Linked DNA regions of Homo sapiens: all the other regions are reported to be linked to region 1. Evidence: microRNA targets listed by miRTarBase, many of them from high-throughput screens and not tested one by one. Region 1 holds a microRNA gene; each other region holds the end of a gene's coding sequence. Distances are between the middles of the regions.
Evidence for each region. The annotated mature microRNA hsa-miR-4778-3p reads UCUUCUUCCUUUGCAGAGUUGA and lies in region 1 at 2,891-2,912, opposite strand. An mRNA with a match to its seed (bases 2 to 7 or 8) in the 3' UTR can be bound and repressed. Matches are read on the target gene's strand: a 7mer-m8 pairs with bases 2 to 8, a 7mer-A1 pairs with bases 2 to 7 and ends in A, and an 8mer does both.

Region 2: the mRNA of WDR70 is a reported target of hsa-miR-4778-3p. The part of its 3' UTR that is shown has no 7-base or 8-base seed match.
Region 3: the mRNA of SDC1 is a reported target of hsa-miR-4778-3p. Seed matches in the 3' UTR shown: 7mer-A1 at 2,825-2,831.

The regions. Positions count from the first base shown.
Region 1 is chr2:66,355,367-66,359,726 of GRCh38, forward strand. It overlaps MIR4778 (microRNA 4778), which reads right to left and starts at 2,962; the gene lies at 2,883-2,962.
Region 2 is chr5:37,752,242-37,756,241 of GRCh38, forward strand. It overlaps WDR70 (WD repeat domain 70), which reads left to right. Exons shown (of 18, transcript NM_018034.4): 18 at 245-1,194. The coding sequence ends at 332. Among named protein-coding and RNA genes, the nearest start is that of GDNF-AS1, 86 kb to the right of the region's middle.
Region 3 is chr2:20,199,292-20,203,291 of GRCh38, forward strand. It overlaps SDC1 (syndecan 1), which reads right to left. Exons shown (of 5, transcript NM_002997.5): 4 at 3,796-3,931; 5 at 1,506-3,644. The coding sequence ends at 3,475. Among named protein-coding and RNA genes, the nearest start is that of SDC1, 24 kb to the right of the region's middle. RefSeq lists an enhancer at 1,681-2,181.

The DNA of each region.
Region 1 (4,360 bases):
TGAAATCACACAAAGTTTTACTTGGAAAACTCCAAAACAAGAGGTCATCTAATTCAAGGTTCTCATCCTAGGGTTCATTGACATCCCAGGATGGGCTTGGGTGAAGTTGGACATAACACATTTGAATGTGAATTTTGCTAAACAGAAGTTCAGTACCTTTCAAATGTTTTTGTATGGCTATATGCCCCCATCCTTAAGAGTTAGAAAGCACCAATGCTGACCAAACTTTTTACTTTCTAGACAAAGAAAGATTATCCCAATAAACTATGACTTATGCAAAGCATAGGGCCAGTGTATTAGTCTGTTTTCACATTGCTGATAAAGACATAACCAATTCACAAAAGAAAGAGGTTTATTGGACTTACAGCCCCCACGGCTGGGGAGGCCTCACAATCGTGGCAGAAGGCAAGGAGGTGCAAGTCACATCTTACGTGGATGGCAGCAGGCAAAGAGAGAGCTTATGCAGAGAAATTCTGGTTTTTAAAATCATCAGATCTCGTGAGACCTATTCACTATCACGAGAACAACATGGGAAAGACCTGCCCCCATGATTCAATCATCTTCCACTGGGTCCCTCCCACAACACGTGGAAATTATGGAACTACAATATGAGATTTGGGTGGGGACACAGAGACAAGCCACATCAAGCTAGTTAGAGCCAGAACTGAGACATTAATCAAGGATGCCTAATTTTTCTAAGTTACTTTCAGACCAATCTCATTTATTGGTAGTACTTTCTTCCCTGCTTGCATGAGGGTGGGAGACAAATCTTGGCTCTCCAAACAGCCAGACCCCAGACTCTGTGTTTGACCTTGTGCAATAGATTTGTTTCTTTAAGCCTGGATTGGCTGGGCACGGTGGCTCATGCCTGTAATCCCAGCACTTTGGGAGGCCAAGGTGAGTGGATCACCTGAGGTCAGGAGTTCAAGACCAGCCTGCCCAACATGGCAAAACCCCATCTCTACTAAAAATACAAAAAATTAGCCTGGTATGGTGGTGCATGCCTGTAACCCCAGCTACTCAGGAGGCTGAGGCAGGAGAATTGCTTGAACCCAGGAGGCGGAGGTTGCAGTGAGCCGAGATCACACCACTGCACTCCAGCCTGGGTGACAAGAGCCAAACTCTGTCCAAAAATAACAATAATAAAAAAAAGCCTGAGTTTACAAATCTATAGAAGGAAATTTAAAATATGATCTCTGTTCCCATCAAATTTCTTTGTTTCAAGTGATATAAACTAACTATGGCTGATTAGACAGTAGGGAATTTATTGCAAGGGTATGAGAAAGCACGTAGAAAAGGCTTCTTTGTGGCTCAACTCCACAACACTGTATTTTATGTTTATGAAAACATTGGGAAGGCTGAACTACCAGACTCAGAAATGGCATAAAGAAGGGGTGCAGGTAACAGCCTGAGCCACAGCCAAAATGATGCCACAATGTGAGTGAGGTGGAGACTCTATCACTCCACCTGACTGTTGCTGACACTGAATACTGAGGCTTATCTGTTATTGCTACTGAACTTAAACATTTAATGTCACCACCACAGCCTCTGTAAACCCTGGAAGCTGATGTTGAAGCCACCTCTGCAACCATTAAAGGAGAAATAAATTCTCTGCTTTCCTGATTTTTGCATCTCTCAATGCAAATTTAAAGTCTGAGGCAGGTACCTCTGTTTGGCTGAGTATAGGTGATGTGTTCATACCTTAGCTGCAGGGTAGCCTGGGACAAGAATTTTTTTGACTTCCATACTGGGAAATTCAAGCAAAATTCATATTATTAGAAATTTCTCAAATGTAAGAAATGGGTTCAAAGGCTGAACTCAGCCATTCAAAGGCTGAAACCTCTCAAATAAAACTAACATGGATCTACTACTCCATCCCATTAGGTTGGCGTGAGGATTAAATAGATAATAATAGATAGAGTGTCTAGGAAATAATAAGGACTCAATGTTCATTTTCATCATCATTGTATTACTCTTGTAAGAGTCAGCTTATCTTCATGGTATGCCAGTTGTCTGTAATACCTATAGCTGAGAAAAGTGAAATAAGGATTTGAAGTGTTTTTATTTCACATAATGGGAAAATGTAGGGAAAATTAAGGAAATGAGGAGTAATGCCAGAAGAGATGAAAGTGAAAAGACTGACAGACAGAGTCAGATAAGGAAAGTAAATGGGCATTAGATTAGTTGCAGAATTACTGACTCCTGTGAAGGAATGGATTGTCCAGGGAAAAGAAGCTAGCCAAGAAATGGAGACCTGGGAATGAGATCCATGCTACTCCGAGCTCTAATCCTAGGGCTGAATCTCCCAATCTAGGGTGCCCATACAAAAAGAACACAATAATTAAAGACAAATAAGGAATAGAAATATTCTGGGTCTTTTTGGAATTAAAACCTTATAGCTTGCATCTGTTTGGTAGTGGTGATTGTAGTGGTGGTCCTAGTGGTGTGTGTATGTGTGCAAGTTCATTTTGTTTTGTTTTAAACTTACAGAACAGAATTGAGATTTGGATTTTAAGGGAATTTTGATATTTCATTTTGACAGCTCTCCTTCTGACACTTCATTCTTCTTCTTCTCGCACCCAAACACACACAGGCATACAAACCTCTTTGGGATTGGCTGCAGAAACAGTGCCTCCCAGAGTATTCCCATTCATCTCATTTGTGCTTAGCTGACCTCTAATACCTAGAGGAGAACTGTAGTGCAAACATCAAGAAAATAATAATGTAATTCTAGAATAATATCCCTAAGACTTATAAATATGAAGCAAATATAAGAACCCTTTTTTCAGTGGACAAGAATTGCTTGTCTATTCATCACATCCTTTTTTTGTTTGGAAAGTGTCTCCTCTCTCTCTCCATGTTGACTCTAGAAGGACTATAAGCCACATATTCAACTCTGCAAAGGAAGAAGAGGGCTTCACTTCTTCTTACCTCTTCTTCCTTTACAGAATTGGACATGTGATTTACACTGACCAGTCAGTTTACCTTATATGTCTTAATGCCTGTGATTAGTCCAGAGAGAAATACATGAAGTAGGGATAACCAATCCAAACACTGCTTTGGAGTTTGATTGTTGGGATAAAGTCTCTCTTGAGTTCACAAAGCTTCAGGATCATGTATTCATGTGGCAAGCACCAGGATGCTCTCACCACCTTATGGAAAAAGCTTGCCTGAAGCTGAACAAAGGCAAATGGAGCTCAACATACCTCTGAACAATCTGAGCCAACAACTTCTCCTTTTGACTTCAGCTACTTTAAGTTGAGGTTTTATTACTTGGTGTATTAGTCTGTTCTCACACTGCTATAAAGAACTACCTGAGTATGGGTAGTTTATAAAGAGGGATTTAATTGACTCACAGCTCCACAGGTTGTATAGAAGACATGGCAGGGGAGGCCTCAGGAAACTTACAATCATGGAGGCAGGGCAAATGGGAAGCAAGCACATCTTTACATGGCAGCAGGAGAGAGAGAGCAAAGAGGGAAGTGCTACACACTCTTAAACAACCAGATCTCATGATAACTCACTATCACAAGAACAGCATGGGAAAAATCTACCCCCATAATCCAATCACCTCTTACCGGGTCCCTCCCCCAACACTGGGGGTTACAATTCAACATGAGATTTGGGTGGGGACACAGAGCCAAATCATATCACTTGGAAGTTGAGAATTTTATATCTCATACTTCCCCGCCCCAAGAAAAAAATAATTTCATACCCCCTTAGTGATATGAGTTGAACTTTTAGTATGACTTAAGAAAACATACTGACAAAAATGGCCAATAATCTCAGTAAAGCTTTTAAAATATTATTTACTCAGACTCTAGAGAATGCTTGCACAACAAGTAGATTAATAGACACCTAACAATAACTTATTGGTCCCCCCATCCAAGGTTAAAAATCATTGTTTATAAGTGCTTATGCTTTCAAAACAATACTGAGAAAAATGCACTTCTGAGTGTTATCATATTTTGAAGACTATAAACCCTTCATCCACTTTTGAAAAGAGGATGATATTGAAAAAGCCATTTGATAAGCTTTTATATCCAAAGAAACAAAGAAGCAGTTTGCTTCGAAGACTCCAGGGACACAAGGCCACCACCTGTGAGGACACAGGAGCCACCTATGAGCCATGAAAGTTTGGAAACTTGCCTGGGAAGTTCATCAGGGTCACCACCAGAGGAAATCATTGATATTCATGGAGAATTGGATGCTCAGCAGTGCAGTGGCATATAGGTCACACACAAGACAAAAACTGTTTCTGAGGTTTGAATGCAATGCCATTAGTGAGCCGTTACTGATATGTTTGACACTGTATCAGAAAATTTTACCAAAGCTCCCTTTTCTACTAAAAGCAACTGAG
Region 2 (4,000 bases), not on the chromosome of region 1:
AGAACAGTGTGTATGTACAGTCTGCCACAGAGGGTAAATCTTTAAAAGAATCTTTTGCTCTTTTCCTGAACATAATTAAATTTCCATTATCTTTTTCTTTGCCAGAAGTTTAATGATTTATATTTAATAATTGAGTTGTAATTTATTCCCCACATTTGCTCCCACTTGATGAAGGAAGCAAAATCTAATGTAACAAATACTTTCTGACTAAATTTTTCCTTCTCTTCTTTAACTTTTCTTTTAGGACTCAGCCCAAAACCATGTTTGCCCAAGTTGAATCTGATGATGAGGAAGCAAAGAATGAGCCAGAATGGAAAAAACGTAAAATTTGAAGAATCTCATTTGAGAGCTGTTTGCATGAGTGGGAGGGGTATGGGACAGGTTTGGGTTTTTTTTTTATGCTCATGAAATTAAAAATTCATTTTTATGAACAGGTTTTGTCCTTTGCATTATTGAACTGGTCAAAAGTTTGGTGGCTAGGCTTCACTAAAATTGTGCTTAAATTTTCTTACCTGCAACTATTAAACTGATTACAGATAAACAAGAAACAGATTCTTAGTCTATTACCAAGTACTTTAGGTATTTGGAAACTTTATTCAACAATTATTGGTCTTGTCCAGATTCTCATAACCTTAGAGAGGAAAATGTACATTAAGATGTGCATCTGTCTCTAGCAATTCTAGGAACATAATATAGAAATAGAGATCAAAAAGTTTAATGTTTCTGTATAATTTCACAACAGTTGTTTACATGACTGTAATTAATTAGGCTGAGTTCAAACCAAATACATTGCCATACTGGGAAAGAGCATTATCTCATTATCCTTCAATAGCAGAATACAGTGGTTAAGAGTTAGGAGTGGGCTTTGAAGTCAGACTCATGTGGATTCAAGTCCTGGCTTTGCTCTTTACTTCTGGGTCATCTTAAGAGAGTTATTTAACTTTTCTTTTCTAGCCTCAGATGATGAAATAGTACGTACTTTGCAGGTTCGTCAGAAGAATTAAATGGGACATGCCTCACAGAGCATTTAGTACAGTACCTGGAACACAGTAAATGTATACCAAATATTTGCTATTTTAAAATAGGGCTAATATTTACTTTGCTTGGTTTTTATCAGTATTAAATTAGAAAGGTATAGAATTGCTTTGTAAATGTAAAGACTAAACAGAAGACATTAAAAATTATTCTAAAAAATCATTGTGCTTTAGTGACTAAAAAACTAAAACAAAAGTTGGCAGTTTGTCCAAAATAATAATGCATCAATAGAATAAATTCTGTGCATTGGTTTCACACAGACATGGGGTAGTTTTTGCATGTTAAATAGTCCCCTCTAGACAGGTTTTTTAGGACTTGCCTTCTCCCCTCCTGCTCTCATTTGTTCTAGTGATTTCAATAATTATAAAAATGCATGATGATCCCAAAAGTATATCAGAAAACTCCTGGTTTTACAGGCTTCACGTACCCACACCTGCTTCCCAAAAAATATTTTTAAAGAATCACTTGTACTCACACAGCTCCCTTGTCTCTACAGATTCTGAGGTGGCAGTGGGCATTCTTTTATAGATAAATCCTTAAAACTTCATTCTCATACACTTTCTCAGTCCTTCCTTCCTACCCCCATCCTCATCCTATTCCCCTTCTCTTGTGACTCAGACTATAGGTAATAGGTAAAAAGAAAAGAACTAACATTTGCTGAGTGTCTGCTACATAATGAGTACTATCCCAAGCCCTTTACTTGTGTTAGCTGATTTAATCCTCACAAAAACCCTATGAGTAGGTAAAATTGCTAAACCCATTTTCCAGATGAGGCAAAAGAGATTCAACATGTCAAATCATATGTCTGAGGTCACAGCCAGAGAGGGCTGCATGACAGCACCCAAGATCTCTAAACATCAGTAATTAACAAATAGCCCCAAGTTTTCTGTTCCTTTTGAAAAACACTTCATTCAGAATCAATTACAGACCAATATTTTGTTCCAGCTGCTTAGAATGTATAAATTTATTACTTCTTGAATAAAATTTACTGAAAGCATCTCACATTTTCCCCCATCTTAACATAAACATTGCACCATATGGAAGTATTCGTCTTGTACAGCCAAAAGTTGCAGTGGAGGGTTGGAGGAGGAATAAAAACTTGATCATAGTGGTCTTGGCGGAGTCAGCTATGATGTAAGGGAAGAGAAAGGCAAATTTCGCACGAAGATGATTTTCTCATCGTTACCCACAACACAAGTGGGCCTTTTCATATTTAAGAGGATCTGTCTCACTGTAGAGAGTTTTATAAAGAATTATTTTTTCCACAGAAGATTGGCAACATGCACATACGGATTTCAATTTCAAATTTGGTAAGGGAGGAGTTTAGAACCAGGAATGGACAAATAGTGTGTGTTCATTTGACCTGCAGTCCTGTCACCAGAGTGGGCATCAACAGTTATTTATCTTACAGTCCCTCACACTCCCCATGTCCCTCAGGCCTCGTTATCTTCCCCCATGCAACCTTGTATTTGGTCGCCTTCATTTCTAGTTGCTCGAAGGAACTGGCAGTCATCCTAATGACTCCTCCCTCACCCCCCACTCCCACCCATTTAATTATTTGCCAGTTTCTTCCCATGCTGTCTTCTGAATCTCTCATATTTGCCCTTCCTCTCTTTCCCTACCACCCCTCTAGAATTTAGACCCTCTTTTAGCCTTCACCAGCACCACTCAGGAGCCTCCTGCCCAAATGATCTTCCTGTTTTTCATTAGGTCCTCATCTAACCCATCTTTCATTCTGTCATCAGAGTTGGCCTTCTAAAGTCAAAATCTGTCATTTCATTCTTTTGCCTAGAGCCTTCCAGAAGCTCTATGTCAGTACTCATGCGTTTATGTGGCAATTGAGGACATCCAGGATTCGGCCTTTCCCTGTGTTTCATGCTGTAACTCCTGCTGATCTGGCACATGCTTCTGAGGCTCAGCCACTACTATGTTCTTTGGCACCTGAATGGCTTTGCACATGTTGTCCCCTCTTCCACCCTTGTCTGCTTGGAAAATTCCTATTTGATTTTGGAAACAGGAATCAATTTCACCTTCCCAGGCAGACAGTCTCCGCTTCGATAGTTGCTTACATATCTCTCAATTATAGCCTCCTTTTATGTTGCGTTATGATTGTATACACATGAATGGCTTGTGGGCCAGTGGTGTGTGCCCATGTGTGTACATGCATGTTTCCTCACTAGGGTGTAGATTGTAAAAACTAAAGAGCATTGGGTTCAGTAAATATTCAGTAAGTTTGTTTAATAAATTAGAGGAGCCATGTTCTATTCACATTTGTATTCCTAGACCCTAGCCCTGAGAAAGGGTTTAAAAAGAGGCGTATTCAATCTTTGGCAGAGGGAGGGAATGAAACAGGCAAGGATGAAGAATGGATGGGAAAAGAATGAGGTGTGAGAAGTGCTTCTGCCTCGCAGATGGAAAGGAGGATCGTTAGTACTGAAGGTTGGTCTGCATCCAGGCTGCTTTACCTCTTCTCTGTGGGGATTTATTCACAGCTAACTGTGATGGCTCAAGGAGGAGGCAGGATTATCTGTGCTATTCCTGGCAGGGCACAGCAAGTTCTAAGCCACCATGACATCCTCAGGTACTTGCCTCCTGTCCTGTTGGACTTGATACTGGGAAGGTCATGTGACCCTGACTTACCAAAGATCTGAGAGATGTCTAGCATGGGGATTCTTAACCTAGGCGGGATGTCTGTGAACTCCCTCAAATTTTATGCAGCATGCTTTGCTTATACTCGTACATTTTTCTGTGGAGAGAATCCATAAATTAGACTCAATTCGAGGATACTGGGTACAGCTAGTAATTCCTTCATCTCCCAGGATAACTGTCTAAAATTGGGCCATTCATACTTGAAAACCAGGACATAACTCTCACACATTCACACACACACAGTACCAAATAAAACCAACCCAACTAAAACCTTTCATACACTGTCTACCATTTAATCTTAGGCAATCAGTCATAT
Region 3 (4,000 bases), 46 Mb from region 1:
CATATCCCAAGCAAAACCCCTGAGGCAAGCGAGGCAAAAAAATGCTATTTAAAACAGAAGCTGGCTGCACATTGAGAGTGCAGCACGATCTGAGAGAAGATGGCTCGTGCGTTTAGAAAATAACTTGGGAGAGGTCTTAGTAGAAGATCCAGTGAGTCGCCCATGCAATGTACACACACACTCTCCCCCACACCCAGGCCAGACTGTGGGCATGATGTAAAGGGAACGGAAAAAGGAAATAGTGCCCACTGCTCCCCTCCCAGGCAGGGCAAGTGGGAAAGTGGAGAGATGGGGATTAGGCTTTGCGACACAGGACAGCAGGCTGAGGCCCAAGGGGAGGTGGGCAGTCACTGCTTGAGGAAGGGGTGCCCAAGGATGACATTTAAACACCTCCACCTTTTTTACTGTTAGTCTCAAACATGCGGCAGTCTGTTTGATGGCACAGCCCTGCCCTGGGGGTGCCCTGGGGTGGGGGACTCAGAATGGAAGCACAGAGTTGCGAGAGGGCATTAAGAACAAGCAGGGCCAAGAGGTGGGACGGGGTGCAGTTTGATTTGGATATATGGGGACAGGCAGCCCAGGGAGCTGGGGTCTTGGAACCTTGCAGGTCCCATGTGGAGGGTTATTAATATGTTATTAATAAAAGTATTACTATCTGATGGCCAATTCTACAAGTGGGCCCTCCCTGTCCAGTCCAAGAACTGGCAGGAGATAGGCACTGGTATTTTCAGTGTTTGTTGAATGAATAAATGACCTGGAAAACTTTATCTCGGCCTCCAAACCCTTTGGAACACAATGTGTCAGGAAGAATAGAATTCTCCATCCTGCAAAGCCACCTGGAGCCAGCAGTCCCTGCTCCATCAGCAGGTGCAGGGGCGGGGAAGAAACGGTCCCTCCTGCTCTGCAGGGCCCAGGCCATTCCTGGGGTCTGGGGTCTGGGGTCTAGGGTCAGGGGGTGACCTGCACCAGGGACAGAGTGGGCCAGCAGCCTGGACAAGACTGGAAAGCCAGCTATAATAGATGCTCTAGGACACTAAGGACCCCTGCGGTGCAGTGTGCTGCCTCAACCTCCAGGTCTTTCACTGTCATTTTTCCCTACTAGGCACATGGTTTTTTTAGACCTCTGGCACTTAAAGACTGTTGCTAGTGAGTGTACAGAAATCACAGTGAGCAAAGAATAAATAGCAAGCTTTGAGAATCAGTAGGGAGCCCATCATGTCCTTGAGGAAGGGAATGATCCAGTGGAGCCTTAAGGAACAAGGAGTGCTGGGCAGGAGGGCCAAGAGCCCCGGGAGGAGGAAGGCGAGATGCTGAATGCCTGCACAGGGGTTTGGGGGAGGAGGGCAGAGATGGACTCTGTCTTCCACGACAGGAGGGACCAGCATGAATTCTGCTGTTCTGTACCAAGCCAGAGCATTGCCCAGAACCAGGCTCCCACCCCTAGAAGGTGACACGGCTGGACATCGCCAGGCCAAGAAGAGACTCAACCACCACCACAGCAGCTGTTGCCCGAAATGACAAGTACCGTTTATTGTCGTTACACAAATGAACCCAGCCTCTGGCTTGGGCACCGTCCCACGGACCAGCAGATGAGCATGGTCAGCCGACCCCTTTCCCCACCCCCGAGTCATGTGCAGTCATACACTCCAGGCAGAAAGTCGCAGTATCGAATACCGGACACAGGTTCCCTTGGCTTGGTGGTGCATCTCTGATCCACAGACTGGCCCACCTCTCGGAGTGGCCAACGGAGTCGCTGAAACGTTGTCAAATAAGCAAGTAAGTGCAGGAGCCCTGGGCTGGGGGCCTCTGGCCTCTGCAGCCGGGTGGGAGGAGGATGTCCAAGGTGTCTGCGGGGTAGGCCTCGGCTCCACACCTCCGCTGTGACCACAGCCTCAGGTCAAGCTGTGCTGGGGCCATCCACCTTCCTTTGCCATTTAGAAGATGGGGCTTGGAGCTTGGCAACACAGAAATTGACATCAGCCTTATAAAACCTTGGCTGAACCTACCGACCTCCAGGAGAATTTCAGCCAAAACAAAAAAGCAAATACACAGAGGGACCCTGGAACCAGAATCCCTCCCCATGGGAAAGACGAAGGCACAGAGATTCGAGCCAAGTTTCCCAACATGTTGGTGTTTGCAGAAAAGTCCGGTCACGTCACACACAGCACAGAGGCAAGAAGCGAAGGCAGTGGCATTCACAGGACTACTTTATATTAAAGTTTATTACATTTGGAAAATCTACTGTACAGGGAAAAACCCATTGGATTAAGTAGAGTTTTGCCAAAAGCAAAAGACTATCACTCTTTGGAAAATATTCCTGATTCCAGCCCAGGGCCCAGGGTGGGGCCACAGGAGCTAACGGAGAACCTGGCCTTGGATGGAGGCGCTCAGAGCCAGCTCTGCCCAAGACACCCCTCGTCAATTTCCAGGAGGAAGCAGCCCCTGGAGACGGCGCCACAGGCAGGACGGGCGTGGTCTGCAGGAGGATCTCCAGGCCCCTGCCGCCCTCCCTACAGTCCTCTCTGTCTGAAGGCTGAGTCCCAGCATTCACTTCTCACACGGGCTTCTCCAACGTGGCAGCGGCCCAGGCCTCAGCATGGCCCTGAGCGCATGGACACAGGCACGACTGCTTGAAAGAGGCGGCGGCCCCACGGCAGCCTGGACTGGCCAGCCTGCCAACAGACCACCAGAAACGGGGCCACCAGACAGATAGTCCATACCCTGTTGCACACATGAGCGACAAACTCAAGAGACAACACACAAACTAAGCCTACATTTTGGCTTCCAGATTTGGTTCTCCTAGTTTAAAAAAAAAAAAAAAAAGTCTTCTTAACCCTGATGCTGTCTCCCGACCATAGATTAGGGAAGCAAGATGGGGGGATACCGAATCAACTTACTTAACTTACCTCAGAAGTAACAAGGTCTACTGGGCTATGAACAAAGAACTAGAGGAAACATGTGCAAAAACAAGTCGATATCTAGATTAGACCTCCCCACGAAACAAAGTGGACTCCTGTCCCCTGCCACTCAGCGGCCACCCCCCCAAGATGCTTGGTCCTACCAGTAAGTGCTACAGGTGTGTGAGCCCCAAGCCCCACCCGCAGGATCTTCCAGCCACATGAGGCCATTTAGGTCCAAAGCAGTCGGATCCCCCTCCCCTCCAGAGCTGGACCTGGGGAGAGGCTGCTTCAGTTTGGAGAAACCGAGTCAGAATGGTGCGATGCCAGGTGCTGGCTGTGGTGGAAAGGTCCTATGCGAGAAACCCCTGGTGCCCTAAGTCTCCAGGCAGAAGTCAGAGAAGCAGAGTGGAGCTCCCAGCACACCCCACGACTCCGTGGGCAGGAGCGACCAGAGGGGCTGGAATGCTGGGGAGGTGGCCTGGTGGCAGGGGAGGCCAGGGCCTGCAGTTCTTCAAGGAAGAGGCAAGTGGGGGCCTAGTGAGTGGCAGGGCGGAGGGGGCGCATGGCTCCCGCGTCAGGCATAGAATTCCTCCTGTTTGGTGGGCTTCTGGTAGGCCCCGCCGTTGGCTTGTTTCGGCTCCTCCAAGGAGTAGCTGCCTTCGTCCTTCTTCTTCATGCGGTACAGCATGAAACCCACCAGGCACACAGCAAAGATGAGCCCCACGAGGCCTCCGGCAATGACCCCTAGGGCAGGTAGACGGGGCCAGCTCAGCTCAGCGGCTCCTTGGGCTCTGCTGCAGACCCTCCCCAAAGCAGTGGCCTTGGCTGTGGTCAGCCCCACCCTGACCCCACAGCAGCAATTCACCCCAAACTACCCCCCTGAAAGAAAACTCACCTCCCAGCACCTCTTTCCTGTCCAGGAGGCCCTGTGAGGCCCCCGTGGCCCCCTGATCCACTGGGGACTGGTTCCGGCGGTCAGGCTCCACGGCCACTACAGCCGTATTCTCCCCCGAGGTTTCAAAGGTGAAGTCCTGTGGGAGGGCAGGGGCAGATTGGGTTGGCCAGGTCACCGCCAGCAGCAGCAACCAGCTCCACTACAA